Homo sapiens: one gene and its partners. The protein of the gene in region 7 purifies or fractionates together with the protein of the main gene of each other region. This does not show direct contact. Each region holds a gene or a part of one and is shown on either strand. Other genes may lie near its edges. The genes, in order: CSE1L, TNIK, FARSB, TNPO1, DNAJC7, GEMIN5 and RRM1.

Region 1 (4,278 bases), on a different chromosome or scaffold from region 7:
ATCTTACAATAAACGTAGTTCAGAAAAGAAAGGGGATGTATTAGTATGCACTGAGCTTGAGCTTTGTAAGGAAAGTCTTCATATAGTCTTAGCTGAACCTTGAAGGAAGATTTAGATTAGGATGAGAACTAGAGGTGGCATCATTTATAGCATACAAACAGAGGCAGAAGTCAGAATGCTTTATGCAGCTGCCAGATGTAGCTGGAGCAGAGAATTCTTGTCAGAATAGGTAATGCTCAGGCTGTGAAGCCTGTGTATAAAATGTTTTGTCCACGTGGTAAGGGAACTTATAAAAGTGGTGTTCTTAATATTTTAATCAAAAGTTTCAAGTCAGTGTTTATTCTGTAGGATCTCCCTGAATTTTTTGAAGATAATATGGAAACTTGGATGAATAATTTTCATACTCTCTTAACATTGGATAATAAGCTTTTACAAACTGATGTAAGTATTTAAAATGTTGCCTGAGTGGTCTTTTTCTTTCATTAAGAGTTATTTGGCTACAGTCTGGAAACCTATTTACTCTTGCATTGTTAAAAGATAAAATTTCAATACTGTAATAATATTTGATTCTATTTGATGTTACATGTTTGGTGTGTGTAGTATACAGAATTACTCTTATCATGGGCTTGGCTTAAGCCATAGTGTACATATAAGGCTGTTTCATTACATTATTGAAAGTAGGTCTTTAAAGTAGTGACATTATGGATATTTCATGAAATAAAATTATTTTTCATTGAAGATACTAAGAAAACTTAAAACTCTATAATGGTAGCCCCTTTTTAAAAATCATCTGGCTAGGCATGGTGGTTCACACCTGTAATCCCAGCACTTTGGGCGGCCAAGGTGGGGAGGATCCCTTGAGCCCAGGAGTTCAAGACCAGCCTTGGCAATGTAAGGAGACCCCCATCACTACAAAAAATAAAAATAAAATTAGCCAGATGTGTTGGCTCATGCTAATGGTCACAGCTACTCAGAAGGCTTAGTTGTGAGGATCCCTTGACCTTGAGCCCAGGAGGGCAAGGCTGCAATGAGCTGTGACCATGCCACTGCACTCCAGCCTGGGAGACAGAGGGAGACCTCGTCTCAGAAAAAGAAAAAATTATCCACAGCTCGAGAAAGAGAGAAAATGGTAAAAGATTGTAATTTGTAAATATTTCTGATATGGGTTTTATATTGTGTACTTTTAAACATATAACACTTATTCTGTGCTACTCATTTGTTAATATATTTATGACCTTCTTTCCGAAGAGACAAAAGACAAAATATTAAAAATATTTCAATACCAAATAAACTAAAAATTAGAATTGGTGATTCAAATCAGGTTTTAAGAGTGGGGTACAGAAAGAAATTGTTACTATCGTTGTACAACAGATTTTGTCTCAGAGTTTGACTATATTAATAGGAACTTTAAAAGATGTAGCTCTCATAAAATAATTATTTCAGTCCAATGGGAGGGAAAAACACTCCTTCAGAAAACAAAACTTTTCTTCACACAAAAGTCACAAGGAAATTTTTTGGATAGAATTCTTACAAGGACCTTTTTGCCCAGTTAACCATGTGCTACCTTGTGCTACTATTTATGCCTTAAGTAATCAGTGTGAGGGAGTTTTGGTTTTGGCTTTGGTTTTTGTTCTTACTCTGATGTCTTCCCTTGTCTCACTCTGTCACCAAGGCTGGAGTGCAGTGGCATGATCATGACTTACTGCAGCTTCGACCTCCCTGGGCTCAAGTGATCCTCCCACCTCAGCCTCCCAAGTAGCAGGGACTATGGGTATGCACCACCATGCCCAGCTGATTTTTTTTATTTTGGGGGCTTGCTGTGTTGCCCAGGCTAGACTCAAAACTCCTGGGCTTGGCCCGTCGCAGTGGCCCACGCCTATAATCCCAGCACTTTGGGAGGCCGAGGCCATCCTGGCTAACACGGTGAAACCCCGTCTCTACTAAAAAAAAAAAATACAAAAATTAGCCGGGCGTGATGGCGGGTGCCTGTAGTCCCAGCTACTTGGGAGGCTGAGGCAGGAGAATGACGTGAACCCAGGAGGCGGAGCTTGCAGTGAGCTGAGATCGCGCCACTGCACTCCAGCCTGGGCAACAGAGGGAGACTGCGTCTCAAAAAAAAAAAAAAAAAACCACTCCTGGCCTCAGGCCATCCTCCAGCCTCAGCCTCCCAGAGGGTTGGGATTACCGGCGTGAGCCACTACACTCAGCCAGAATATACTGTTTGAATCTAATACGGAAATATTTTGTAATTCAGCAACTTATTTGAAAGACTTGGTGAAAAGATTGGTGGTGGCATAGCTGTAGTTTACAATAACTGATTTGATTTGGATTTAATTGATAAAGAGTCTAGTTCAGGAATTTCAGTTACTCCTCTTACTTATGTTAGCATTAGAGTTGTATGTTGGAGTTTTTGTTTTCTTTTATGTGAGGATGAAGAGGAAGCCGGCTTATTGGAGCTCTTAAAATCCCAGATTTGTGATAATGCCGCACTCTATGCACAAAAGTACGATGAAGAATTCCAGCGATACCTGCCTCGTTTTGTTACAGCCATCTGGAATTTACTAGTTACAACGGGTCAAGAGGTTAAATATGATTTGGTAAGATGATGGTGGAGACAAATAATTAAAAGACATTCTCTCCCTATCTCCTCCAAGAAATAAGCTGTTGAGTTTTGCTTTTAAAAATATTCTTGTTTTTGTGTTTTGTTCCAGTTGGTAAGTAATGCAATTCAATTTCTGGCTTCAGTTTGTGAGAGACCTCATTATAAGAATCTATTTGAGGACCAGAACACGCTGACAAGTATCTGTGAAAAGGTTATTGTGCCTAACATGGAATTTAGAGGTAATTATGGCAAAAGTATATTAGTATAAATCTACTAAGTCTGTGTTTGTTTTTTGTAACATATTCAGTCTAATTCATTTATTACTGGATAAAACTTGTATGTCATTTATTTCTTATTTTCTAAACCAAGACAGAAAATGTAGTATCTGTAATGAGTTTTGTTGTGCCCTGTGAGGGTTTTCTCATGGAAATATTAAATAAGACTTCAAAAATTCCTTTACACTAAGAAGATAAACTATCTGGAATTTCTATTTAGAGAAAGAATTTGATTTTGTTTCATTTATTATTTCAATGAATTTTTAGCTGGCTTTATTTATTTATATATTTATTTGAGACAGGGGTCTCGCTCTGTCACCCAGGCTGGAGTGCAGTGATGCAATCTTGGCTCACTGCAACCTTAGCCTCCCAGGCTCAAGTGATCCTCCTACCTCAGTCTTCTGAGTAGCTGGGACCACAGGCACACATCACCATGCCTGGCTAATTTCTTGTATTTTTGGTAGAGACAGGGTTTCACCATGTTGTTCAGGGTAGTCTCAAACTCTTGAGCTCAAGCAGTCCACCCGCTTTAGCCTCCCAAAGTGCTGGGATTGCATTTCTGAGCCACCTCGCCCAGAAATAGCTGTTTTTAAACAATCGACTTGAGAATAGAAATGATAACTTTATAAATACAAGGTTGAAGCCCACTTAGTTTGTGCTTAAGGTTAAACTATAGTGCTAAGAGCCTATATTTATAAAATGTATGTCCTTGTTCTAACAGTTGTGAAGAACAAGTAATGAAGGTGGGAGGGATTGTGTTTTTTGTTTTGGGGACAGGGTCTCACTGTGTCACCCAGGCTGGAGTGCAGTAGCACAGTTATGGCTTACTGCAACCTCAACTTCCCAGGCTCAAGTCATTGTCCCACCCTGGCCTCCTGAGTAGCTGGGACTACAGACGTGCACCACCATGCTCAGCTAGTTTTTTATTTTTTATAAAGATGGGGGTCTTCCTATGTTGCACAGGCTGGTCTCAAACTCCTAGCTTCAAACAATCCTTCTGCCTCAGCCTCTCAAAGTGCTGGGATTACAGGCATGAGCCACCATGCCAGGCCAAGATTTTGTTTTATATCAAAATAGTTATTAGATCAGTGGTTTTCAAATTACATCTGGAACAAAATAAGGAAATTAAGGACAATATAGCGTGAGATTTTATTTCCTGTTGTGTTTTCATAAAAATATGTTTAAAGGATAAATCTTCTGGCTGGGTGTGGTGGCCCATACCTTTAATCCCAACACTTTGGGAGGCTGAGGTGGGAGGAACACTTGAGCCCAGGAGTTAAAGACCAGCCTGGCCAAAATGGCAAAACCTTATCTCTACAATAAATAAATTAGTTGGGTATGGTGGCATGGGCCTGTGGTCCCAGGTACTCAAGCAGCTTAGGTGGGAGTTTTGCTTGAGCT
Region 2 (4,278 bases), on a different chromosome or scaffold from region 7:
AATAAATTAGTACCTGACCATTGGCTTTCTCTAACATAAAATGAACGAATTTCCCTTCAAAAACTGAATGTGGAAACTTGTCTACCGAATATAATTCATGCCCTTGAAAGAAATATGTCATATTCATTTTAATCTAAAGTCCAAAGAGACAACATGTAAATGCCAAATGATTTCTATTATGTATTCCCCAATTTTAGGAAGTCATAAAAATTAGTTAAATTTATATATTTTAGTTATTAAAAGCAGTATACTTAATGAAGAACGAAAGTCCATTTGCTGGTTAGTAAAGTGTGCATGACTTCTACTAAAACTATGCAAAACAAATCTCTTTCTACATGCAGGCTGTTGTACAGAGAGCCCTTGAAAGTCTACTTCTGAGTACTTACATGAGATGGTATGTAGATATCATAAGAGTTTCCTGAATCAACATCAATTACATGGAAACCAGTGTGTGAACCAAAAATAACCTTTAATCTTTGACCTTCTTCTACCGTGAGATCAACTAGCAGAGGCTTGTGCTGGAGATCTGCAAAAGACTTTAAAAATCACCCCATTAGTATCCGCATCACTCAAAGAGGCATCTTAATTTTTTTCCTTTAGCCACTGTCTAGAGGAAGTTAACTTCTAACTTTATTAAAGTGAAAAACTAGAAAATTTCTCTTTCAGTTTTAGGTCTGTTGATATTCTGGCCCTAGGAGGAAGGGTCTAGCATCCATTTGTGCCCCTTTCTCTACCCTTTGTCCTTCGGGGCAGTGAAGTTTAAGTTGGTGCACAGGTGTAAATTTTGATAGTGGTAATGTATATTAAAAACCTGGTGCCTGGGTATTGCTGTTTTTTCCTGTTTATTTCTGGCCTTTGTCCTCTGAAGAAGGCCCAGTCACCTCTCTGGCCCCCCTCTTTCCCATGTGGCAACCAGGCCCATCCACAGCAACTACCCTTTCAGAGACAGCCTGGGAGGGACAGCCAAGGCCGGCTGTTTTCTCAGCCTGTTTAGTATTAATGGGCATGCTCTGGTTTGGATTTTTCTTCAGTGAATGAGTAGGCATAAGATTGGCACTTTCTCTTAATGTTGGAATCTGAGACTTGGGTTTGGGTGGTAGAGAAAGAGGTGGGAGTGGAACATCACAAGATTGATGGCTTGCATTGACTATTTGGGTTTAACTAGAAAGCAAAAAGAGAGATCTTGCCAAGTTTGTCAAAGTTCTCTGTGTTTGAATCCAGAGCCCAAGCCCCAACTAACTGTCAAGTGTTCCTCTGCCATTTTCCTTTGCTATTTTTTAACCACGCTCTACCTTTGGGCCTTGAGATCTGGGAGAGCATTTGTGAAACTACAATTGCCTTAACTATAATGCCACTGCTACCTCTCAGACCCTTCTCTTCTCATCTTTTGCTAACACCATTCTGACAGCATGGGAAGCTCTAGCGTCCTGTCCTTGTCCTATGGGAAGGCTTGGCCTCTTGCCAGTTCCACTCTTTCCTGTTCAAGTCTTTGCCTTTGCTCTTCCCTCTTTCTGGGCTGGATAGGGTCTGTCAGAAAGAACATTTTGCACTCTCTCATGTGTCTCTGGGTCATAAAATAATGGCAATAACTTCAGAGCAAGAATGGGAATGGGATGTTGATTGAAAAGCTTTTGTGGAGATAGATTTTGGCAGAACAGGAGTACCACTTTGGCTTTTAGGAGTTATCCCTTGTTATTAGTAACCTAATGCATTCCAATTTTTTTCCATAAAAGTGAGGTCATGGAGGGGAGCCCATTTCCATTAATGAATCTATTTTCTTGAGCACATCAGAAGCCATCTGCCCTAAGGGAACAAGATAGAAGTGATTCAGCTCTGAAGTGGGCCTACATGGTGTTCCAAGGGCAGTTTTGCCCTTCATGAGAATGTGGCAGAAAATAATAAGGAGCCAAATGGAGATAACAGTCATAAAGGTGGGGAGAAAAAGTGAGAGCCAATGAGACATAAAGAAGTAGACAGACATAAGCTGAGAGAGAGAGAGACAGAGAGAGATCAGAGAGAGAGAGTGAGAGAAAACAGAAGATAAGTTCACTTGGGCTATGGATAGGTTATGCGGCTCTGAACACATCTGGGTGCCTGTAAGTACTGGTCCTCCTGGTATTCGGGTGTCAGCTTCATGAGCTGGGGTCAACAGGACTAGCATATCCCCATCCCACTCCTGGCAAATCTCATGAGTGACCAATCCAACCATGGTGGGTACAGACTTAGACAAGGTAAAAAAATGAAAAGGCAATCAAAATAGAAGAATGCAGAGAAACTAGGTCATTTCTGTAAGTTAGCACTGGGGACATATAAGCATCACCTGAGTTTTAGGGACTTCATTCAGAAAGATTTATGAGGATTAAAAGAGACTCAGTTTAACTCTGAGATTCAGTGCTGCCATTTGTCTGCCTTTTTCAAACAAAATATCAGGGAATACCCTGGTTTAGGTGGCTTTATAACAAATGTCATTGCATAAGATCATAATCAATGCTATGCCTACTAACCATTCTAAATGCCTCTTGAGGATGATGATTCATAGATCTCAAGGAGGAGGGCATACCCAAATTTTAATCTAATTTTATAGCATTTACAAATATTCAGTCTTTACTTTTGAAACAATAAACCCTAGAGTACCTACACTTTTAAAACAGGTTTATTATCTATATGAAAATTGGTATTGGTCTATATGGACTATTTTATTAATGGGTAGAAACGGAAAATTTTTAAAAAGCACATTTTAGATAATCACATCCCTGCTTACCTTAAATGCCATGAATTTATGATACGGTTTAGGAGCCCAAGCATATATTTCCACAGCATTCTTTAAGGCAATCACCAAAAATTTGATCCTTTCATATTTAACTGTAATAGAAAAATTATGAGTGAAAAAGTACATCAATTTACTCAAGTTCTTTGTATTAATATTAATGAATGTATAAGCAACAATATGTAAATTTAAATATTGATGTTGGGTGTCAGCTTCATGAAGGTGATATTCCTGGTGTGGGATTTTTTCATAGATACTGATTTAGCTTCCCTTAGCGAACTTTGGTTGGCAGAATACTTATGGCTTTTGCTTTATATTGAAGACTTTTCATCATCCAGAGATATAACTGCTTAGGACTGTCTTTAACACTAGGTCTTGATGTTGATATTCATTGTAATAAGAATGTGCATAATTTCCTTCATGTTAGCTTGCCTGGCTTTTACGTTCACCCATATTTAAGTAGCTGAGAGCAGATATGGCAAGATGGTAGAAAAATTAGCAAATGGGCAGATATAAAGGCTGCCATTTGCTTATTATTTATATTTGAATTCCAATTACCAAGTGAAATAATTGCTTATTTATGCTTCTAACGAAAGGGGGGTGTTAGGAGTCTTGGGTTCTGTTAGTGGCTTAAAGGGCTACGAATACTGACAAATCCTTTTACTCTTTAGAAAGATGGAATATTAAGCATTGTAAATTCTATGGACAGAAGCTTAGTTAAATGATTGAGTCCCCACAATGCTTTTGCCTACACAAAGTAGTACTCAATAAATGCTTATTGAATGGAAAAATGGAAGAACAGACTGTTGTCTGGCATTCTCTTCATTACTCTTACCTACGTGTGTGTCTCTGATAGAATAATAAGCAATGTTTACGGTGATGACCTTGAGAAATTGAACAATCCTTTAAGTGCCTTCTGAATCTTTTGCTGTTAAGTGTGGATTCTAATTCTTAGAGAATTCGTAATCCACAGTTGGTACACATGGCAGTCAGTTTCTTGGTAAAATATCTCAAGAAACAGAATATTCTGAGTCCTAAAGAAACTAGGTAGGAAAAATTTTAATATACTTAAATGACATTAAGTTTCCAGTTACTTGCTTTATAACTTTTCATGACATAAAGTGTTTATTAGACTATTTTTGCTGATCTCTTCATCTGAAACCTAGGAAAAGATCCACAGCTCTTGGCATTGAAGGAACATACCTCAAAATAATAAGAGCCATATATGACAAACCCAGAGCCAACATCATACTGAATGGGAAAAAGCTAAGAGCATTCCCCCTAAGAACTGGAACAAGACAAGAATTTCCACTCTTACCACTCCTATAGTATTGGAAGTCCTAGCCAGAACAGTCAGGCAAGATAAAAAAATAAAAAGCATCCAAATTGGAAAAGAGGAAGTGAAATTATCTCTGCTGATGACAGGATCTTATGCCTAGAAAACCCTAAAGATTCCTCCAAAAGACTCTTAGTGCTGATAACTTCAGTAAAGTTTCAGGACACAAAATTAA
Region 3 (4,278 bases), on a different chromosome or scaffold from region 7:
GGACAAAATACAGAATGGCCAAAACTAGATTAACTGGCTCAGTTATGTCTACTAGGTGAAAGAAAATACAGAATCTGTTACTGTAGAAATTTTAAGAGGTTTTGAGTCAGTTCCAGTATAAAAATAAGGCCAAAGTTCTCCTGTAAAATCATCATTAAAAGTACAGAGAAGAGATCTATCATTCAAATTATAAAAGGAAACCTCATTCATTTCACAGTCTAAAAAAATGCCAATCTTACTAGGTGTTACTTTTGGCAGCAGAATAATTTCCTTATGGCCCAATACAATATAATTATTCCGACTAGATTACCAAATTCTCCATAATCCATCCTGTACTAAAATTGGTTGACTCTTCCTCCTTGTGGGAGGAGAGTCACTACAGACACCAAGAATCCATTCAGGCATGTCTTTAACTTCTACTTCCCGGTACTGCCTGCCACAATTTTATCCCTTAGAACCCAGAACAGCTGGGAGCAGATAAAATCTTCTTGGGTTATGAGGTAAGTTTTGTGTTGTATTTCCATATCGCACAGTTTTTCTATCTTCTGAGACTATAAGTTTACGATGTGCTGCTTCAGGATCTAGAATTACATCTACTTGAAATCGCTTGATAATTTTGTTTTGGCCACAATATTGTGGAGACAGATGGTAACCATATTCTTTTAATTTGAATAAAAAAGGTTTAGGGAATTTTAAATTCTTATGTCTGTGATAGATATCCTTAACATCAGCCAGTAATTCCAGTTCTGACTTCACATATATGCTCTCTATCTTCTTTAGTAGATATTTTAATGAGGAGGTATAATCTGAAAATTTTGTTAGGCTTTCATTTAGTTGTGCTAAAATATCCATCTCGTCATCTTGTAATTGCCCAAAAACAGTCTCTTGCTCATTTTGCAGAAATAACCTAAGTTGCTCAAATTCAGACTTGACTTCTTCTGCCGTATGTTTTACCTTTTTCTTCAGTTCCAGTGATTTTCTGGTTTGTATAGTTATGACTTTTTCAATTAGTTCCACTCTCTCCTTCCACGGTGCATTGTATTGCTCCAGTTTTTTCCTGATAGGAGGCAGCCTTCTTTATGGGCCAAACACAGCGATGCTGGTGATCAGTGGACAAACTGCACCTTGGACATAAAAGCTCTAGGTCTTTCTGAGAGAAGAAAGTCAAAACCTGATTATGCTTCTTACACACATGCTTCTCTTCCTGCCTCTTCCTCTTGCTTCTTAGCTGGAGTTGCTTAGCAATTTCAGTCAAACTACCCAGCTGGGGATTGCTTATAAATTTCCTTTCTGGACAGCACAAGTGGCAAAAGGGGCAGGGGAAACTATCATCTAGATCCTTCCAGGACATAATGATGCAGGAGAGACAGAAGTTATGCCCACAGCTGATGGTCACTGGGTCTTTCAAGTAGTCCAGACAGATGGGACAGCTAGCCTCTGCTCGGAGGTCAGCCAGGGCTGTCACAAATTCTACGGAGCCTGGAACAAAGATGGTAGGTAAGGTAATTCTTTTATTTTAGCAAGGCCTAGCTCTCTAGAGCTCAAGACCCACTATGCAGTGGATTCCTCCCCAGACCTTGAAATCTGACCAGCTTTCAGTTTTACTGACTTGGCATGTTGATGGCAGCTTCTAGAAACTTGTTAAGCCCTCAGCTCCTTAGCTTCAGACTTCACAGCCTGCAGCCTATTGCATATTAGAACTTATTAGCTGGGCTGCTGCTCTTCCCACTAAATGAAATAAAGTCAAGTTTTCTTCAAGAAAGCAGCCTCAGGTCCAAGATAAGGACTCCTTCCTGTAATCCCAGCTACTCAGGAGGCTGAGGCAGGAGAATCGCCTGAACCCAAGAGGAGGAGGTTGTGGTGAGCCAAGATCGCGCTGTCGCACTCCAGCCTGGGCAACAGAGTGAAACTATATAAAGCACATTGGGCCAGGCATGGTGGCTCACACCTGTAATCTCAGCACTTTGGGAGGCCAAAGCAGTGGATCACTTGAGGTCAGCAGTTCGAGAACCAGCCTGGCCAACATGGTAAAACCTCGTCTCTCCTTGCATTATAATCACCTGGAGGGCTTGGTAAAAGGTTGCTTGGGCCACATCCCCAGTTTCTGGTTCAGTAGGGCTGGTTTTTTCCTAAGTTCCCAGATGATGCTGCTGGCCTGCGGACTGTACTTTGTGAACTTATGCTGGAGCAGATGGATCAGAAACCCCGGCCAGAGGATGCTCAGGACCCATCAAGCCCCCGCGAGGAAGGACTCAGACCCCCAACCCCACCAAATTAAAGTATGTCTTTAATAGATAATCATTATTAACAATATTAAAATGTATAGCCGACTTGATTTTTTTAAATATTGTAATCATTATACAATCAAAAGTCAAAGAAAATGCTTCCTCATTTTTATAAGCAAGTCCTTAAAAAATATTAGTTCATTTTACAAGACCAATGAATATAGTAATGCATTAGTACTGGTTGAAGAGGCACGGAGGAAGGTTATGGGGGCAGAGGAGCTGAAGGAGGAGGCGCTGGAAGTGAAGGAGGCAGGGTAACTCTGGTTGAAGCAACATTTCTACTGCTTCTTGGTCCCTTTCTGTGATTAATTTGCCAAAGGAGGGAGCTTACTTTCATACTGGGGTTATCTAACACATTCTATCCATTTCCACAGCATGAGCCTGGTAACAAGGTGATTGTAGATGGAATAAGGCATGAACTCCTTTTGAGATTTTAGTCAAGGCAACAGACAGACATGGAGCTTAGCCCTCTGAACACAGAAATCATGGCCCACAAACATTATCACCTTAGTCTAACTATAAGGTAACAAAGATGAAATACAGTATAACCCTGAAAAATAAGCTTATGCACACAATCTTTGAAAAATAGACAAATATCCAATACATACAATTTCATCAAGCTCCAGACCAAATTCAAAACATAGTTCATCAAATTCTTCGTCAGCTAGGAAAATAAAAAAGGAGATGGTTAATTTCACTCTGTTCAGTATAAGTGAAAACTACATACAAACTGCATTTTCTTATTACTAATTGCCTTACACCAATCATACTACTAAATATCAGGCATCACATATTATCATTTAAAAACAAACAGGCCAGGCATGGTGGCTCATGCCTGTAATCCCAGCACTTTGGGAGGCCAATGTGTGTGGATCATCTGAGGTCAGGAGTTTGAAACCAGCCTGGCCAACACGGTGAAACCCTGTCTCTACTAAAAATACAAAATTAGCCAGGCATGGTGGCGCATGCCTGTAATCCCAGCTACTTGGGAGGCTGAGGCAGGAGAATTGCTTGAACCTGGGAGGCAGAGGTTGCAGTGAGCCGAGATCATGACATTGCACTCCAGCCTGGCTGACAAGAGCGAGACTCCGTCTCAAAAAATTAAAAAAAAAAAAAAAAAAAAAAAAAGCTGGGCCAAAAAAATTTAAGATAAAAAAAAGAAAAAACTATTAAAGGCTTGATTAATCTACACTAATATCAACTGTAGTTTAGGTTACCTGCACTGGGAAGTTTGCATGTACACAGAAGAAAAACACCTGTTCACCTGTTAAGTAGAGATCAGATATAAAGTAGGCTCCAAATCACAGATCTCACACAACAGAATGTCACATAAGTCCTATCAGGTAAAATGGTCTGAGGTGGCCTGACACTTTTGGCTTTGAAGCCAAGTCAATCAGAGTTTGAATTCTATCCCACTTATTAGATCTGAGAGTTTGGCACCTTATGTAAACTTTCTTGGTATCTTGTGTCAACATTACAGCTGCCTCATCTATAAAATGGTATTTCACAGCCATTATGGCATGGTACTATTGGAAAGATTTAAATGCTAATGCATAAAATGGACCTGGCATAGTACCCTGAGACACAGTGAGTCTACAATAATTAATAGTTTATTAGCAATTAATAAAATAAGTTCTCTTCCTTATTTTAATATTATATCCTACTGTTTAGCTTTTCAGGGTTCTCACATTACCAAAAATTGAACACAAAACATCATTAGCAGTATATTCTAGCGAAAACTGGTCTTAAGATTCCTGATTCAGACACTAAATTTCAATTTAACATCTATGTACTGAGTACCCACCTTATACCAGGCACTGTACTAGGTACCAGGGTTACAAAGATAAATAAAACACAATTCCTGCCTTAACTACTTCCTCATCTAGTAAAGAAGCCAGATGTGTAAATAAATATGACTGTGTTAAGTACAAGGTACAGGGCTGGCACAAAAGAAGTAATCAGTTTCTCTTATGGTCAGCTAAACCTTCACAGA
Region 4 (4,278 bases), on a different chromosome or scaffold from region 7:
GGTGTTAATTTCTGGCCAATGTAATGGTTTTGTTTTGGTTTGGTTTGGTTTTTTTTTTTTTTTTTGAGGATTTTATTATTGTCTAGTAGTTTGTGATTAGCCATTTACTATGCCTAGTTCACGTTGGAAATTTCTGATATTTTCTTAGTCCATTTTGTACTACTATAACAGGATACCTGAAGTTCAGAATGGAGGGGCTGCATCTGGTGAGAACCTCCTTGCAACATCATCTGATGACAGAAGGACACACTTAAGAGCTCAATTCACGCTTATAATAAGCCAACTCTCTTGATAACTAACCCACTCCTACAGTAACGACATTAACCCATTTATGAGGGCAGAACCCTTAAGACCTAATCATCTCTTGATAGGCCCCACCTCCCATCTTCGTTGCTTTAGGGATTAGGTTTCTAATACATGAACTTCAGGAACACGTTCCTACCCATAACAGTTAAATGATATTTTTGTTGTTCTTTTTGATTTTGTTGCTCTTGTCTAAATTATTATTATAATAAAATCTGGGTTGATTTATAGTCCCATAGTTAATTCTTTGTAAAGAGTATTTTCTAGCATGCGTTATGTTTCATGTGCCAGTGACTTTTCTTCCAGTTTTTGTGTCTAAAGTCCAGCTAAGTAATTGTCTGTTTAATTCTAGATGATATACTGCTGGAAATGTTAAGTAGAGTTAATAATGTATGTTTTTTGCGTGATTGTAACAGTGATTGTAATCATGATTGTAATATGAGTGTATCATATTGAATGGTTATGTTAGAAGCACTGAATTGAGTGGCACAGTATTTGTTTTACTGTATAGACAGAATTCTAGTATGACAGTTATGTACAGAATACAATGTGTTCACAATTAATTTGCCAAGTAAGTTCTTGTCATAAAAAATATTCATCTTAATAGAAAATGTTTTTGGCTGGGCATGGTGGCTCACACCTGTAATCCCAGCACTTTGGGAGGCTGAGGAGGGTGGATCACGAGGTCAGGAGTTTGAGACCATCCTGGCCAACATGGTGAAACCCCGTCTCTCCTAAAAATCAGCTGTGCGTACTGGCACACACCTGTAATCCCAGCTACTCAGGGGGCTAAAGCGGGAGAATCACTTGAACCTGGGAGGCAGAGGTTGCAGTGAGCCAAGATCGCACCACTGCACTCCAGCCTGAGCGACAGAACAAGACTCCATCTCAAAAAAAAAAAAAAAAAAAAAAACCACAAAATGTTTTCACGTGACAAACTACCTCCTATTCAATTGAATTCTTATTTTAAAACTCCGTATTAGAGATACGAATAAAATGTTACATATACAATAAATAATATATAAGTAATAAGAGGTTAATGTAATATTTTTGAATTAAATATTTCCTTAGGAAAATGTTCTGCTGCTGCCCTGGATGTTCTTGCAAATGTGTATCGTGATGAACTGCTGCCACATATTTTGCCCCTTTTGAAAGAATTACTTTTTCATCATGAATGGGTTGTTAAAGAATCAGGCATTTTGGTTTTAGGAGCAATTGCTGAAGGTAAGCCTAAGTCCAGTTTGAATTATGTAAGTTGGCTTCTTACTACTATTAGGTACTAATAAGGCTAGGCTACTTTAAGGAATTTCTATTTTGAACCAGATAACTAGTATTAAACAGCCATAGGCCGTCTTCTAACCCCAGCTAGATATTTTGCAAAATGTTTTTGTTATAATAAAGGTAACAGAGGCCAGGCATGGTGGCTCACGCCTATAATCTCAGCACTTTGGGAGGCTTAGGCGGGTGGATTACCTGAGATGGTTTCAAGACCAGCCTGGTTAACATGGCGAAACCACGTCTGCTAAAAATACAAAAATTAGCTGGGCGTGGTGGCATGTGCCTGTAGTCCCAGCTACTTGGAAGGCTGAGGCAGGAGAATTGCTTGGACCTGGGAAGTGGTAGTTGCAGTGAGCTGAATTCGTGCGATTGCACTCCAGCCTGGGTGACAGAGCAAGACTCCATCTCAATAAAAAATAAAAACAAAAAAATTAAGGGAACAGAATGAAAGGCTCTGATGTCTGAAGCATCCCCATTGCTTTAAAAAAAAATCCTTGATTCTTTAGGTAAGTATAGGAAACACAATAAGGCAAGACTCTCTTCATTCTCTATGAAGGGTTATTATTGATTTTGTCCTGGCAGTAAACATCTATTAGAAGAAATTGAAACACTGTAAGATGCTTGGGAGCAGGTAGCTCTAACTTCAGGGTTTTAAAAATAATTTTGGTATAGGTTATTGTAGTATGTGTATAGCAGTAGAAATATTCTGAATTTTTTCATAGATACGTGTTTTATTTTCATAATCAACCAAAATAATGTTAACTAAATTTTAGCATTTTGAAAGATTTATTTTTTTTCTAGGTTGCATGCAGGGCATGATTCCATACTTGCCTGAGCTTATTCCTCACCTTATTCAGTGCCTCTCTGATAAAAAGGCTCTTGTGCGTTCCATAACATGCTGGACTCTTAGCCGCTATGCACACTGGGTGGTCAGCCAGCCGCCAGACACGTACCTGAAGCCATTAATGACAGAATTGCTAAAGCGCATCCTGGACAGCAACAAGAGAGTACAAGAAGCTGCCTGCAGGTGGGACAGATTCATAACACAGTGTTCTTTGTGGCAGTGAAAAACTTAATTTTCAACCTTCTGATGGAGTGTTGGTGTTAAACCTATAATGAAGTGTTTCGTAATTGAAAATTTTCCAGTTATATCAGAAAGCTTAGTTTTCTTTTTTCTTCTTGGTGAAGTGTTTTGCAGGATCTGTAGCTTTTGGGTTTGCATATTAGCGTATTTTATACATTTTGTTTGGCCAGGAGAATTTTGTCATGTGGGTTTTACCTGATGATTTTGTAGATCTAAATGTGACAACATCGATCTTAGCTGTTTCTTCTTTGGCTCATTTTTCCCACTCAGTGGTTATTATAACAGAACTATCTTACACCCTAATTCCCTCAGACATCTGAACTAGTGATGGCAGGACTCCTACTCTTGAAGGAATAACAACGTTTGAGCAGATTGACATCCTTAGACTACAGGTCAACCACCATAACTCAGAAAGTCCCACAGGGACCTGTGGTCTGTCACTTACCAGTTAAAGGTCTTTGAGTGCTTAGTAGTTCTGCTCTAGTAGCCATTCTATTGGTTGGTTTGGTGGCTGTCTCTTTATATCAAGCCAGCAGTTGCTTTTATTACTACAAATATTCCAGTTTCCTGCAATATACCTTTATATTTTAAAAGGGCCTTCTGCTTATGTTTATAGTTCTTAATTTTTCGAGTAGGTTTGCTTTTACCATTGACCTTGATAGTAGGAAAAAATAACTGTTGAACAAAAAAAAGGAAAATTTTATTTTATTTTTTTTAGATGGAGTCTTGCTCTGTCGCCCAGGCTGGAGTGCAGTGGTGTGATCTTGGCTTACTGTAACCTCCGCCTCTCGGGTTCAAGCAATTCTCCTGCCTCTGCCTCCTGAGTAGCTGGGACTACAGGTGTGCGACACCATGCCCAGCTAATTTTTGTATTTTTAGTAGAGATGGGGTTTTGTCATGTTGGCCAGGCTGGTCTTGAACTCCTGACCTCAAGTGATCCACCCATCTTGGCCTCCCAAAGTGCTGGGATTGCAGGCGTGAGCCACCGCGCCTGGCAGGGATAGTAAATTTGAGTTTGACCTTAATCCATCTGAAGCAGTCATATCTGGAAGATATTAAGGGAGGGAGGATATAGATTATGTTTGAGATCCTATAATTTATTCATTCAGTACCTCGGTTTTTTTTTTTAGCTATTAATTGTTAAGCATATACTAAATGCTGAGTTTACATAAAGTCCCTGCCATCTTGAGACTTACAGGTTAGTAGGAAATACAAAGCAGCAACATAATTATCATTTATGGCAAGTGCTATGGAAGAAATCGGTAAATAATTCACAGTGCTGATGACCAGGGCTTTCATTAACAGATGGCTTAGACCATTTTAGGAAATTCCTGATTGGGTAAAACAGAACATAAACATTTTAGCAATTAAGAGTTAGATATATCTTACAGTCAATAAGTATTCTTTTTTTTTTTTTTTAAACAGTGCCTTTGCTACCCTAGAAGAGGAGGCTTGTACAGAACTTGTTCCTTACCTTGCTTATATACTTGATACCCTGGTCTTTGCATTTAGTAAATACCAGCATAAGAACCTGCTCATTCTTTACGATGCCATAGGAACATTAGCAGATTCAGTAGGACATCATTTAAACAAACCAGTAAGTATCTGTTAAG
Region 5 (4,278 bases), on a different chromosome or scaffold from region 7:
CTTTATACTGCCAATGAGTCAATATCCCTTATGCATTCCTCTTATATTTACTACTCCCCAAATGTCGCCTTACTCTATGATTGTTGTGCTCCATTTATTTTATTCAGTCAAACTTACTAGTTGCCTGTTGATCTAGAAATGCCCTCCACCCTTCAGAATTCACGGGATCTTGGCCAGTCAGAGTAGAAATTCTTTCCTCCTTCCCACAGTCCGAGACCTCTTGTCCCCAATGGCATGTCACAGGGCCTGTTTCATGTTGCACTCTCCCTGACCTTCATGACAAAATAAAGTAAAAGGAGCCCAGGAGCCTAACTTCTATTCCATCTTACCAAAAGCATATCATTTAGATTCTTCTTTAAGAAAAAAATTTCTTTTTTTTTGGAGACAGTCTCATTCTATTGCCCAGGCCAGAGTGCAGTGGTGAGATCTCGGCTCACTGCAATCTTCACCTCCCAGGTTCAAGCGATTCTTGTGCCTCAGCCTCCCTGGTAGCTGGGACTACAGGCACGCACCACCATGCCCAGCTAAATTTTTGTATTTTAGTAGAGATGGGGTTTCACTATGTTGCCCAGGCTGGTCTCAAACTCTTGAGCTCAGGCAATCCACCTCCTCAGCCTCCCAAAGTGCTAAGATTACACACATGATGAGCCACCACAATTGGCCAGAAAAAACTGCCTTTTTTTTTTTTTTTTTTTTTTTTGAGACAGAATTTCGCTCTTGTTGCCCAGGCTGGAGTGCAATGGCGTGATCTCAGCTCACCGCAACCTCCGCCTCCCAGGTTCAACTGATTCTCCTGTCTCAGCCTCCCAAGTAGCTGGGATTACAGGCATGTGCCCGGTAAGAAGTTTCTTTTTTAAAAAAAAATCTAGGCTGGGCAAGGTGGCTCATGTCTATAATCCCAGCACTTTGGGAGGCCAAGGAGGGTGGATCACCTGAGGTCAGAAGTTCAAGACCAGCCTAGGCAACATGGTGAAACCCCATCTCTACAAAAATACAAAAATTAGCCGGGCATGATGGAGGGTGCCTGTAATCCCACCTATTCGGGAGGCTGAGGCGGGAGAATTATTTGAACCCAGGAGGCGGAGGTTGCAGTGAGCCGAGACTGTGCCATTGCACTCCAGCCTGGGCAAGAGTGAGACTCCGTCTCAAAAAAGAAAAAAAAAAAAATCTACTATTCTACAAGTGAAATGTCAATATAAGTTTCACATAGATAAGTGGAAGTCACAGGTATAGATATATATATATAGATATAGATTTTTTTTTTTGAGACGGAGTCTCGCTCTGTCACCCAGGTTGGAGTGCAGTGGCGCCATCTCGGCTCATTGCAAGCTCCGCCTCCTAGGTTCACGCCATTCTCCTGCCTCAGCCTCCCAAGTAGCTGTGACTACAGGCGCCTGCCACCACGCCCAGCTAATTTTTTTGTATTTTTAGTAGAGACGGGGTTTCACCGTGTTAGCCAGGATGGTCTCAATCTCCTGACCTCATGATCCGCCCGCCTCGGCCTCCCAAAGTGCTGGGATTACAGGCGTGAGCCACCGCGCCGGGTCAGACATATATTTTTTGAGACAGACTCTCACTCTTGTTGCCCAGGCTGGAGTGCAGTGGTGTGATCTCAGTTCACAGCAACCTCTGCCTCCCAGGTTCAAGTGATTCTCCTGCCTCAGCCTCCTGAGTAGCTGAGATTACAGGGCCCCACTACCATGCCTGGCTAATCTTTGTTTATTTTAGTAGAGATGAGGTCTTGCCATGTTGGCCAGGCTGGTCTTCAAACTTCTGACCTCAAGTGATCCGCCAATCTCTGCCTTCCAAAGTGTTGGGATTAAAGGCGTGAGCCATCACGCCGGGCCATAGATATATGACTTGGAATAATTCTATAAATATGGCAAGGTATTTATGCTCGGTGCTTCATCCAGAAAAAAATAGAAGGTGAGCGCTATCCAACTGCTACCTTTTAGCAAAGCTATCTGCTACTCAGCTTTCTTTACCCAATTTCCTACAGAATAGATAGTTTTCACTTTAAAGCACAAATGGAACAACCCTCCACACATCTCCGCTAATAAAGAGAAGGCAGAAGATGAAGAAAATTCCTTAACATACCAGTTCAAATTGTCCTCTGGGTGGACATTCAAGGAGAAGCCTCAACACGGGCAGAGTCAGAAGGGACCCAAAATGCACCAGAGGAGTCACAGACTGTCTACACAAAGCAGCAGCACTCCCTACTGTTCAGGCAGGGACGGACACCAGCCAGCAAGCTGTGCCTGGCTATGCAGCTGGCTATGCCTTATTCAGTAAGGAAGAAAAAGCAAGCAACCAATTCAATCCCTACAGAAATCCCATCACTGCAGGCAGAAACATATTCACTTGGAAATACTTGTCTCAACGGTGAGTTGGAAATTTATTTTAGGTCCTTAAATGAGAGGTGTCACAATCTATTACATCTACCTAACCTTCACTTATCCCTGGGGAGAGGAGACCCAACAATGAAGCTACTTCTGGGAAACATGCTTCTCTGAAACCATTCTGAGGATACAAGTCACTGGCTTTTCAGCATTAGCCAGAGGCTTGTTTTCATAACATATCCCCAAACCCACCATTTTCCATCCCTCGGTTCCCTATTCTGTGACATCTCCCACTATAGGGACACCAGCACCCATCAAAAATTTAAAACTGAGGAACTACAATTAAGGAAAAGGCTGCTTTGCCCTGGCGCAGTGGCTCACGCCTGTAATCCCAGCACTTGGGAGGCCGAGGCGGGCAGATCCTGAGGTGATGAGATCAAGACCATCCTGGCCAACATGGTGAAACCCGTCTCTACTAAAAATATAAAAAATTAGCTGGGCATGGTGGCATGCAACTGTAGTCCCAGCTACTCAGGAGGCTGAGGCAGGAGGATAGCTTGAACCCAGGAAGCGGAGATTGCAGTGAGCCGAGATCGTGCCATTGCACACTCCAGCCTGGAGACACAGCAAGACTCCATCACAAAGAAAGAAAGAAAGAAAGAGACAGACAGAAAGAGAGAAAGAAAGAGGCTACTTCCTAGGCCGGGTGCAGTGGCTCACGCCTATAATCCCAGCACTTTGGGAGGCCAAGGCGGGTGGATCACCTGAGGTCGGGAGTTCGAGACCAGACTGACCAACATGGAGAAACCCTGTCTCTACAAAAAAAAAAAAAAATACAAAATTAGCCGGGCGTGGTGGCGCATGCCTGTAATTCCAGCTACTCAGGAAGCTGACTCAGGAGAATTGCTTGAACCCGGGAGGCGGAGGCTGCAGTGAGCCAAGATTGCGCCATTGCACTCCAGCCTGGGCAACAAGAATGAAACTCTGTCTCAAAAATATATATATATAAAGGCTGCTTCCTGAGTTTTTTTGGGTGGAGTGGGGTGGGGTGGAGATGGGAACTAGAGTGGGGAGGAGCCTGGATTGTCAACGGTATTTCACTTCTCAAAGTTGTCTTGGTTCCTTAGTTCAACAGGTGGTTAACTGTCTCAGGGCAAACTGTCCAAGGAAGAACTCTCAGGACAGAAACTCCAAAAACAAGAGAGGGTCCTGCTTGCCCCTCACACTCTCTCCAAAAGTAATATTAGAATCAAGAGAGATGGTTAACACTGCTTATCTGACAATCTGGCCTCCCCACACAAATTGTAAGTCACATGCCAATAGAATTTCACGTCTCAGAATAAGACCTGAGAGTCATATATTCCTCCTATTACCATTCTCAAAAGCCTCAACCACTCATATTCTTACCCATGGTGAGGGTAAAACATAGGAATTGCCATTTTGATCCGAATGGGAGAAGGAAAAACAGTGTCACTCCAATAAAATGAATAGCCTGTTAGGATAACTGCACTTTGAATTTTGTTCTTACTTCAAAAGTTTAAAAGAATACCTGGAAAGACCTCTGAGTAACTTCCACATCACTCAGTGCTGGAGAAAGGGGACCAAAGACTAGTGCAGTAAGGGAGAAATGGGCTCTCAGAGGGACTCTGCATCAGGCCACAAAGCAACTAGGCAACTGCTGACTATTGTTCTCCAAACTTCTAAAGTCCCGAAGAACAAAAAAGCAAGTGCCCAGTACTCAGCTTTTCAAAACCATTAAAATACAAACTTCAATGACTAAACTAATCCCTGATTGGCTGGAATGTACAATAAGGCTGGGCTTTCGGCCAATCAGAGTTCTGTTTGTTGGGAGTGGACTGGACTCTAAGCAACTGCCACTCACTTGGCCCTATATTTTCTCAAAATTCTTGTTTCTCTGGCACTAGTTAACATGTGGATC
Region 6 (4,278 bases), on a different chromosome or scaffold from region 7:
TTTTTTATTAAAAAAAAAAAAATGTGTTGACATTTGCACTGATTGTGCCAAAGCAGTGATTGGGAAACCTGGCATCTAAGAAGGAAGGCGGTGGCTCTTACAGTGGAAAAAAAGGAAGAATGCCCTTAATGAAGCAGTAAAAATTACAAATTTTACTAAATCCGTCAAGTCCAAAACACTTTAATATTCTGTGTGACAAATGGGAAGAACATTTTGTGTTCTCTGCTGCATTCCAAAGTAGAATGGTTGTCTCTAGGTAACACCTGTATGAACAAATTACAAGCTAAACTGGCTGCTTTTTCATAGAACCTTCTTTCTTCTAAAAAAAAAAAAAATGACTAACATAAATAACAGTTATTCAGTGTTGGGTATTTGGCAGATGTTTTTCTCAAAAATGAACAAAGTAGGCCTATCACTTCATTAAAAACAACCAACAGTATTTGTTACTAATGATAAAATGCGAGTTTTCTAGCAAAAATTAGAATTTTAGAAAACTTGTACCTACCACTTGTGTGCCTGAGTTTCCCATAAGTTAGAATTTTCTGATGAGACTGATGGTGATAGTAAGGAATGTGGTATTTTTGGGTATTTTATAATAAGATATGTTAACATTTGGAAGATCTGAACAACTCAGTAAACAAATATTTTTCAAATGACATACAACTGCTGAGTTGTAGCCAACATAAAGTTGTAGCTGGGAAAAAAGTGTTTTATTAGATTAAAGTGATCTAGAGAGAGCAATATTTTGAAAGTATTTTGGGACTTCTACTTCCAGCCATGATGGAGTAACTGGGACCAGACTTACCTTTCTGCCATAAAACTAAAAAACTGGACAAAATGGCTGAAACAACTGTTTTTAGATACCAGGTAACAGGCAGCATAGGATGGTCAGCCCTAAGAGAACAGAAACAAATGATGGGAGCCCTATCTTGGCACTGGCTTTCTGCCCAAAGCCATTTTCCTAAGGAAAACCTGAGCAAAACCTCAGCAGTCTCTGAGTTGAGAAGAGGAAACAATGGAAATCTGAGGGGCAGGATACTAGGAAGGAGGAAGCTGTCCAGAGAAAGACATCCACAACTCTGCCTGGAGATCCCATTGAGTCTTTGGCTAAATTAAAAGCCACGTATGTAAAGGAAACTCCTTAAGTCTAAACAAAGAATGACTAGGTAACTGTAAGCTGAACAATTCCCAGAGCTTACTCAGGACTTGGAGACATCTGAGTTTTGATTTGTTGAATGCATAAGGCATTCAAGAAAGATATCAAAATGTAGGAGGTAATTCTAGAATATGATAAACTTGCCCTAACGAAGTTTAAAAACAAGCCATGAAAAGATCAAGCTGATACACAACTTTACTACTTACCAAAACAAAGTTTAACACTCTCTAAAGGAAGATAACAAAACCAAAGCAGGGTAGAACAAAAAGAAAATCTTGGCCAAGCATGGTGGCTCATGCCTGTAATCCCAGCACTTTGGGAGGCTGAGGCACGAGGATCGCTTGAGCCCAGGAGTTGGCAATCAGCTTGGACAACACAGCAAGACTCCGTCTCTACAAAAAACTAAAAAATTAGTTGGATGTGGTGGCATGCACCTCCTGAGTAGTCCCAGTTACTCAGGGGGCTGAAGCAGGAGGACTGTTTCTTCTATTTATGTTACTTTAACAATAGAGAAGTTTAGGTTATTTTCACATTATGTCCAAGTATTATCCCAACTCTAGGACCACACAGACCTGTAAAAATGGTTTGACTTGAGCAGCTCCACCGCTTCATACACTTTGTGGATGGAAAGTAGGTGAGAAGCAGCCTTGACATACTGATCCTGAAAACACAGCTGTTTGGCAAAAGCTTCCACAGCCCATAGCCACACATGGTAGCCAGCTGAAAAAATAAAAGATGGTGGTTAAAAAAACAGTTGAAGAAAAAGTAAAAACAATACCCAGTACATTTGGGTTGAAAAAGCCTTGTTTTCGTCAATGCATTCAGCAGAACATTTAGATACCAATTCAGCTGCCATTATGGATCATCTGCTTCATCTACACATTCTGAAGCATCAATTGTTTGATTATGTAACACAAACAAAACAGTACAAAGTTGAAAAGATACAGAAAGGAATGTGTGAGCACAGTTAAATTCCTATAATCATAACTGATGAGCCAAAGGTAACATGACTACGTGCTTTTTTTTTTTCCCTTTCCTTTTATTGTTTTTTGAGACAGGGTCTCACTCTGTGGCTCAGGCTGGAGCGCAGTAGCACAATAATGGCTCACTGCAGCCTTAACCTCCCCGGGCTCAGGTGATCCTCCCACCACAGCCTCCCGAGTAGCGGGGACTACAGGTACATGTCACCATGCCCAGATAATTTTTTAATTTTTTTGTAGAGATGGGCTTTTGCCATGTTGCCTAGGCTGGTCTCAAACTCCTGGGATCAAGTGACCTGCCCACCTCGGCCTCCCGAAATGCTGGTATTACAGGCATGAATCAGGAATCACCACACCCAGCCTTTTTTTTTTTTAAAGAGACAAGGTCTCATGATGTTGCCCAGACTAGAATACACTGGCTATTCACAGGCACAATTAACAGAGCGCTATAGGTCTGAACGCCTAGCCTTAAGCAATCCTCCTGCCTCAGCCTCCTGAGCAGCTGGGGACTACAGACTTGTGCCATTATATCTTTTAAAATTTACTAGACATGGCCAAATTGTCCTTCAAGAAGTTCTCACCAATTATGCTTTTGCCAATTAAAGTGTCAGTGACCTGCTTTTTTTCAAAGGGGTTGGGTTGGATTTATTAGTTTGTCTATTGCTGTCTATTGCTTTGTATCTATTTGTAAGTGATTTCAAGCTTAAGACTGTGCTAAGAGCCATCTTTAGTGGACGTATCCTAGAGATGATAGAGCTTTTGTTGAAAAGAACAAACAAACAAAAACCATACCTGCTGGTGCCATAGCCACAAGGTTGTCTGTCAGCTCCCCTCTTTCTGCTGCAGTCTGGAGAACACCTTTGAGATCTCCTTTCCAAAGCATAAGCTGGTGAAATAACTCAGGGTGGCCATTTTCTAAGTGACCTTTTCCTGTTTGAAAGAGAGATAATGTTTGGAAGGTGTTTCAGAAACATCTGTTACTGACTTGTAGGAAAAGAAAGGCAAGATAGAAGAGAAAGTGAGCTCCTAAAATATGCAGTCATTCTCTGATGGGTGTCACCTACCAGAGTGATTACAGTAAGATCTGAAGCCCACTTGGTCACTGTACACTCCCACACCTTCACATGTACTCAGAGTGAATGCTGTATGTTTAGGATCCTATGATGATGCAAGGGTTGTATCAATATGTAAATCAGGGAGCTCAAAACCTAGTTAGCTGACACGTAAAACTAACCATTATAATATCACAGGATGACAGCCATCAAAGAGGTGCACACAAAATGTTGGGAAAGTATAAAGATGGATGAGATTATGTTGACTGGATTTGTCTCACCTTCAATATCAATCATTCTATACAGGGTAGCCCTGTCTGTGAAAAGCCCCAGATGAAATCTTTCCTCAACATCAGCAGACACATCTTCATTCAGCTCTGTTAATTTAAAAAGGCAAAAAAATCAGATGAAGTCATTACATTGATTACAGTTTTCTCTCCAATAACTTCCGAATATATGTTTGGAACACCCACTTCAGACACTGAGAGAATCAGAGCTCTAACAGAGACTCCTGCAGTTACAAAGGGAGCAAAACACAAAAACACTTAAAATGTTAAAAGTGAACCCCAAATCAGAACATATTTAAGTGCAGTAAAAAACAAGCAAAACAATATTAATAAGCAAAAGAAAGTCCTTAATATTCACTGGGACTTACCACAAGGGGATTCAATATTCATCCTTTGCTTCAAAAAAAAAGTCAACTGAGTAATTTTCCAGTAAGGAAAATAATGTGAAACTAGGTTAACTATGTAAGTTATAGGAAGTCATCACAAAGCTCCAAAAAGGCTATGTATATAATAAAAGCATAAAACATCTCCATCAAGACACAAGAAACTGATAATAGTTTGATTATGCAATACAGACAAAACAGTTCAAAAATTCAAAAGAAAGAAACAAATGGAAGCCCAGGATAGTGACTACCCTTGTTAGGGTAGTGGGAGACAGTAACCGGGAGGGAGGATGGTCCTCCATTCCTGGGGAGGAGAAACAGAGGACTGGGAGGAAGATTTACTTTGAAAAAAAAATTAAAAAAAAATTTTTTTTTTTAAATAGAGAGAGGGTCTCACTATGTTGCCCAGGCTGGCCTTAA
Region 7 (4,095 bases):
CCTGGCCAACATGGCAAAACCCCATCTCTAATAAAAATACAAAAATTAGCCAGGTGTGTTGGCACACACCTGTGATCCTAGCTACTCAGGAGGCTAAGACATGAGAATCACTTGAACCCAGGACAGAGGTTGCAGTGAGCCAAGATCATGCCGCTGTACTCCAGCCGGGGCAACAGAGTGAGTCTCTGTCTCAAAATACATACATACATACATAAAATAAAATACATTCCCATGAACCAGATCAAACTTTTTTTAAACTTGGAATTCTATCTCCTCTAGGAGTACTCTCAAAAATGCTTTGTGAGTCAGACAGAAATATCCTGTTCTTTTCACTCCTAAAACAGGCTTATCTCTTTGGAAAGGTCAAACATTTTTATTCTTTTGTCTTTGTTTTTATGCATATGACTTCCAGGTTTGCCCAAGACAATATGTCTGCCTTAGGTTATAACTGTTTAGAGAGCTAGACTGTGTCTCTGTGTAACAACAGACTATAAGACTTCAAAGATAAAGATCATCATCTTCTATTCAGTATCCTCAGTCCTGGCACATACTAGATGTTCAATAAATGTTAAATTAAAAAACAAATTTATAATTCTACTTAAATACCCAATACATTATCAGGGAATAAGAACATAATCCAAAATCACCAGACTTTACAGCTGGCAACGACTAGCTAAGTAAGCTGGCTTTCACTTTATAAAGTGAGAAAACAATGGATGTTTTTGAATAGCGGGTTGACGTGTGCAAAGTTTTATCTGAGGAATGGTGGTAATGCACACAAAATGGCTGGGAGCAGAGATCCTAGAAGCAATAAGGTCAGTTTAGAATAACAGCAGCAGAAAAGGAAGGAAGATATTTAAGAAATAATACAAAGGAACAATCAACACAACTTGGTAATTGTACGGACAGTAAAGGAAGGAAAGCATCACAGGTAACTACAAGGTTTCAAACCTAAGAAGGAAATAAACCTAACAGAAACAAGAAAATCCAAGGCAAGACCCTGTTCTGGTACAAAAACCATGGGTTGGTTTTAACGTTCTGGATTTGAACTTAAAGAACTTCTAGGTGATAATATTTAATAGGTGGCTAAAACATAAAATCATTCCAATGCCAAAATATCTCAAGCTGGCAATTAAGTACTCCTTGATATTCTCTACCAACCTGCTTCCAGCCGTAGAAGTGCATACTAGTGAGTTTGCCATAGTTAGGCTCAGCAATGTGGATGTTCAAAGATTGGCTTTGATCAATGAAAGCACCTCTCTCAGCTGCCATCTTGAGAACAGTTTTCTGAGAGATTTCCCACACAGTTTTATAAAGTTGCTTCAGGTCATCAGGAATTTCTGGTATGCTCTAAAGAAGGAAAACCCAATGTTTACTTTACTCCAGTTAAAGAAAGCAGTGTATGATTAATAGAATAGTGACACAAGCTTTGATCTTCATTTTACTTCCTGCCAGATCTGACCTTACCATTCAGTATCATATGATATGATCCTTATCAAGTTTACCAAGACTATTTAGAAAGTTGAACAAAACCCCCATCTAACCAACCAAATATCAATCTGGTGATAGTAATTTCAGCATCCCTTTTTTGTTGGTCATAAACCAATTTTTTAATTTTTTAATTGATTTATGACCCAAACATTCATTCTTCTAGAGGCACTTAAAGAAAGGAAAAGTCAGAGCTAAGCAGCAATAAATGACCCTTGAGTTTTGCAGAAAACACAAAAAATAAGGGCTGTAATTCACAGGGACCAAGGGAAGCAATGAGATAAAACCCTTTAAATAAGCTAGGATTTCAAACTCCCTTTGGAATCCAAAATCAGGTTTTCTTAGGCCTAGGGTTAACTTTCATTAAAACACACAGACTGGCTAATGCTACAGTTTCTGTCATTAAATATGGAACTGTTATAGGACTCTTCATCTGTGTTGCTAAGCAGACCAACATTTAGCCAGACACCTCTATCTGCAAATAAATGCCTCTTGACTCTTAGTTGCAAATATTTACACGATTTGTGACTCTGTCTTTTGGACTATCAGTCGTCAACCATGATTTTTAATTAAGCTTGACTCTCTTAATTTCAGTCTTTCTATCTATGATCCCCCAAATTTTGATATACTTTGGAATCACCAAAAGAATCTTTAAAAATTATTGATGTCTGAGGCCAGGCACGGTGGCTCATGCATGTAATCCTAGCACCCTGGGAGGCCAAGGCAGGCGGATCACCTGAGGTCAGGAGCCTGGCCAATATGGTGAAACCCTGTCTCTACTAAAAATACAAAAAACAGCCGGGCGTGGTGGCAGGCACCTGTAATCCCAGCTACTTGGGAGGCTGAGGCAGGAGAATCGCTTGAACCTAGGAGGCAGAGGTTGCAGTGAGCCATGATTCCACCACTGCACTCCAGCCTGGGCGACAGAGACTTCGTCTCAAAAAAAAAAAAAAAAAAAAAAAATTGATGTCTGGTTCCTGTTCCTAGACATTTAATTGGTAAGGAATGCAACCTAAGCTTCAGGATTTTAAAAGCTCCCCAGTTGATTCTAAGATGCAGAAAAATTGAGAACTACTTTTTTATATTATTGCATAAAAACAAGATGGTAAGGGTTATGTAAAGATGTGTACAATCCTAGCACAACAATGCAGAGGTGAACAGAGCTACACAAGCAAAACCTAGATGAACACAATGAAGTCATTCTCTCCATTGTCTAGCATGAGTGAGGAGGTACCACAATGTCCAACTCAGCCCCTGCAGAGCACACTTCATTTTCATTCTATACCTGAATAGAGCCATTGCATGCAATAATCTGGTTTTTCATCTCTTCATGCCATAGGCCCCGCTCGGTAAGATCTTTCAATAAGTGAGGATTTACAATCTGAATGGAAAAGCAGAAAATGTATGAAGAAATAAATAACAGTGACTGCTTAGAAAAGACTACAGCTTTGAAGCTTAAACTAAAATCACTTAAGAGTTATTTAATGCTAGATTGCTTGGTAAATTCTATCTTTTATAAAGACGAGACATCAATGCCACCACACGAAAGCTATATTCCTTTAAGATCTTGACATCTGTTATTCAAGAAACAATATAATTAGCCAGGCATGGTGGCGCAGCATGCCTGTAATCCCAGCTACTCAGGAGGCTGAGGCATGAGAATTGCTTGAACCCAGGAGGCAGAGGCTGCAGTGAGCCAAGATCATGCCACTGCACTCCAGCCTGGGTGACAAAGTGAGACATTTTCTCAAAAACAGTATCGACAACAAAAACATTGTGGTGTGGTAATCGTTATATAATATATACACATATCTAATCATTACACTGTATACCTTGGTTTTATACACAATTTTTATTGTCAATTATACCTTAATAAAGCTGAAAAAATATTTTCATTAAAAAAGAAACATATGGCGTTTGCAAAAGTGAAAAGAATAGCGCCTAAGATGGGTAAATCTATAAATACTTAGGTTAAAAAAATTGGAAACGTATCCTTCTCGAACTTTACAGAACTTTACTTCAAGATATCTGGAAATTCACAAATAGTCTTTTAAATTGAGGTTCTCAACCCTAGCTACACATAAGAATTACCTGGGAACCTTAAAAACAAAGAAAAAACCACTGGTCTCACCCACCATAAATTCTAATTGGTAACCAAGTCTGAGAACCACTGCCTTAAATGATACTTCTTTATACATTTTGAGTATCCTAACTTAAGCATCTGGGAGAAGTTATAGAATATATCACTATGATTACATAATGGTTAAACATCATGTTTAACTATCAACAACTTACTTTCATACTCGACCCTCATTCACTCATTCTTTCAACAGATTATTTATTAAATGCCTATTGTGCTGAAATATTAATAACAAATAATAATATTAGAGATGAAGATGACTGTCTTTATCAAAGTTTGCACCCAAACTAAGAAAATGGGCAAATTAAACATGAGTGAGCATTTACTCCCAACATCAGGCTTTTGAAAGATCTCCCTGTAAGGCTGGTTGTGAACTGCTCACCTGAAATTCTCCTGACAAGACTCTGCGAGTATAGATGTTGCTGGTGTAAGGTTCAATGGACTCATTATTCCCCAGGATCTGAGCA

The links.
Region 1: the proteins of RRM1 (region 7) and CSE1L fractionate together in Homo sapiens (co-fractionation; one large-scale study listed by BioGRID). This does not show direct contact.
Region 2: the proteins of RRM1 (region 7) and TNIK purify together in Homo sapiens (co-immunoprecipitation; one large-scale study listed by IntAct). This does not show direct contact.
Region 3: the proteins of RRM1 (region 7) and FARSB fractionate together in Homo sapiens (co-fractionation; one large-scale study listed by BioGRID). This does not show direct contact.
Region 4: the proteins of RRM1 (region 7) and TNPO1 fractionate together in Homo sapiens (co-fractionation; one large-scale study listed by BioGRID). This does not show direct contact.
Region 5: the proteins of RRM1 (region 7) and DNAJC7 fractionate together in Homo sapiens (co-fractionation; one large-scale study listed by BioGRID). This does not show direct contact.
Region 6: the proteins of RRM1 (region 7) and GEMIN5 fractionate together in Homo sapiens (co-fractionation; one large-scale study listed by BioGRID). This does not show direct contact.

What each region holds. Positions count from the first base shown.
Region 1 is NC_000020.11:49,069,857-49,074,134, forward strand, and holds part of CSE1L (exportin-2), read left to right. Parts: intron 1-348; coding exon 349-441; intron 442-2,429; coding exon 2,430-2,597; intron 2,598-2,711; coding exon 2,712-2,841; intron 2,842-4,278. UniProt on the Homo sapiens protein: Export receptor for importin-alpha. Mediates importin-alpha re-export from the nucleus to the cytoplasm after import substrates (cargos) have been released into the nucleoplasm.
Region 2 is NC_000003.12:171,068,462-171,072,739, forward strand, and holds part of TNIK (TRAF2 and NCK-interacting protein kinase), read right to left. Parts: intron 2,863-4,278; coding exon 2,762-2,862; intron 537-2,761; coding exon 387-536; intron 1-386. UniProt on the Homo sapiens protein: Serine/threonine kinase that acts as an essential activator of the Wnt signaling pathway. Recruited to promoters of Wnt target genes and required to activate their expression. May act by phosphorylating TCF4/TCF7L2.
Region 3 is NC_000002.12:222,645,847-222,650,124, forward strand, and holds part of FARSB (phenylalanine--tRNA ligase beta subunit), read right to left. Parts: intron 2,950-4,278; coding exon 2,894-2,949; intron 2,280-2,893; exon of another isoform or gene 1,995-2,279; intron 1,151-1,994; exon of another isoform or gene 955-1,150; intron 501-954; exon of another isoform or gene 1-500.
Region 4 is NC_000005.10:72,885,696-72,889,973, forward strand, and holds part of TNPO1 (transportin-1), read left to right. Parts: intron 1-1,374; coding exon 1,375-1,527; intron 1,528-2,382; coding exon 2,383-2,608; intron 2,609-4,090; coding exon 4,091-4,262; intron 4,263-4,278. UniProt on the Homo sapiens protein: Functions in nuclear protein import as nuclear transport receptor. Serves as receptor for nuclear localization signals (NLS) in cargo substrates.
Region 5 is NC_000017.11:42,007,163-42,011,440, forward strand, and holds part of DNAJC7 (dnaJ homolog subfamily C member 7), read right to left. Parts: intron 1-4,278. UniProt on the Homo sapiens protein: Acts as a co-chaperone regulating the molecular chaperones HSP70 and HSP90 in folding of steroid receptors, such as the glucocorticoid receptor and the progesterone receptor.
Region 6 is NC_000005.10:154,899,611-154,903,888, forward strand, and holds part of GEMIN5 (gem-associated protein 5), read right to left. Parts: intron 3,566-4,278; coding exon 3,470-3,565; intron 3,067-3,469; coding exon 2,929-3,066; intron 1,877-2,928; coding exon 1,729-1,876; intron 1-1,728. UniProt on the Homo sapiens protein: The SMN complex catalyzes the assembly of small nuclear ribonucleoproteins (snRNPs), the building blocks of the spliceosome, and thereby plays an important role in the splicing of cellular pre-mRNAs.
Region 7 is NC_000011.10:4,132,337-4,136,431, reverse strand, and holds part of RRM1 (ribonucleoside-diphosphate reductase large subunit), read right to left. Parts: coding exon 4,011-4,095; intron 2,870-4,010; coding exon 2,774-2,869; intron 1,351-2,773; coding exon 1,162-1,350; intron 1-1,161. UniProt on the Homo sapiens protein: Provides the precursors necessary for DNA synthesis. Catalyzes the biosynthesis of deoxyribonucleotides from the corresponding ribonucleotides.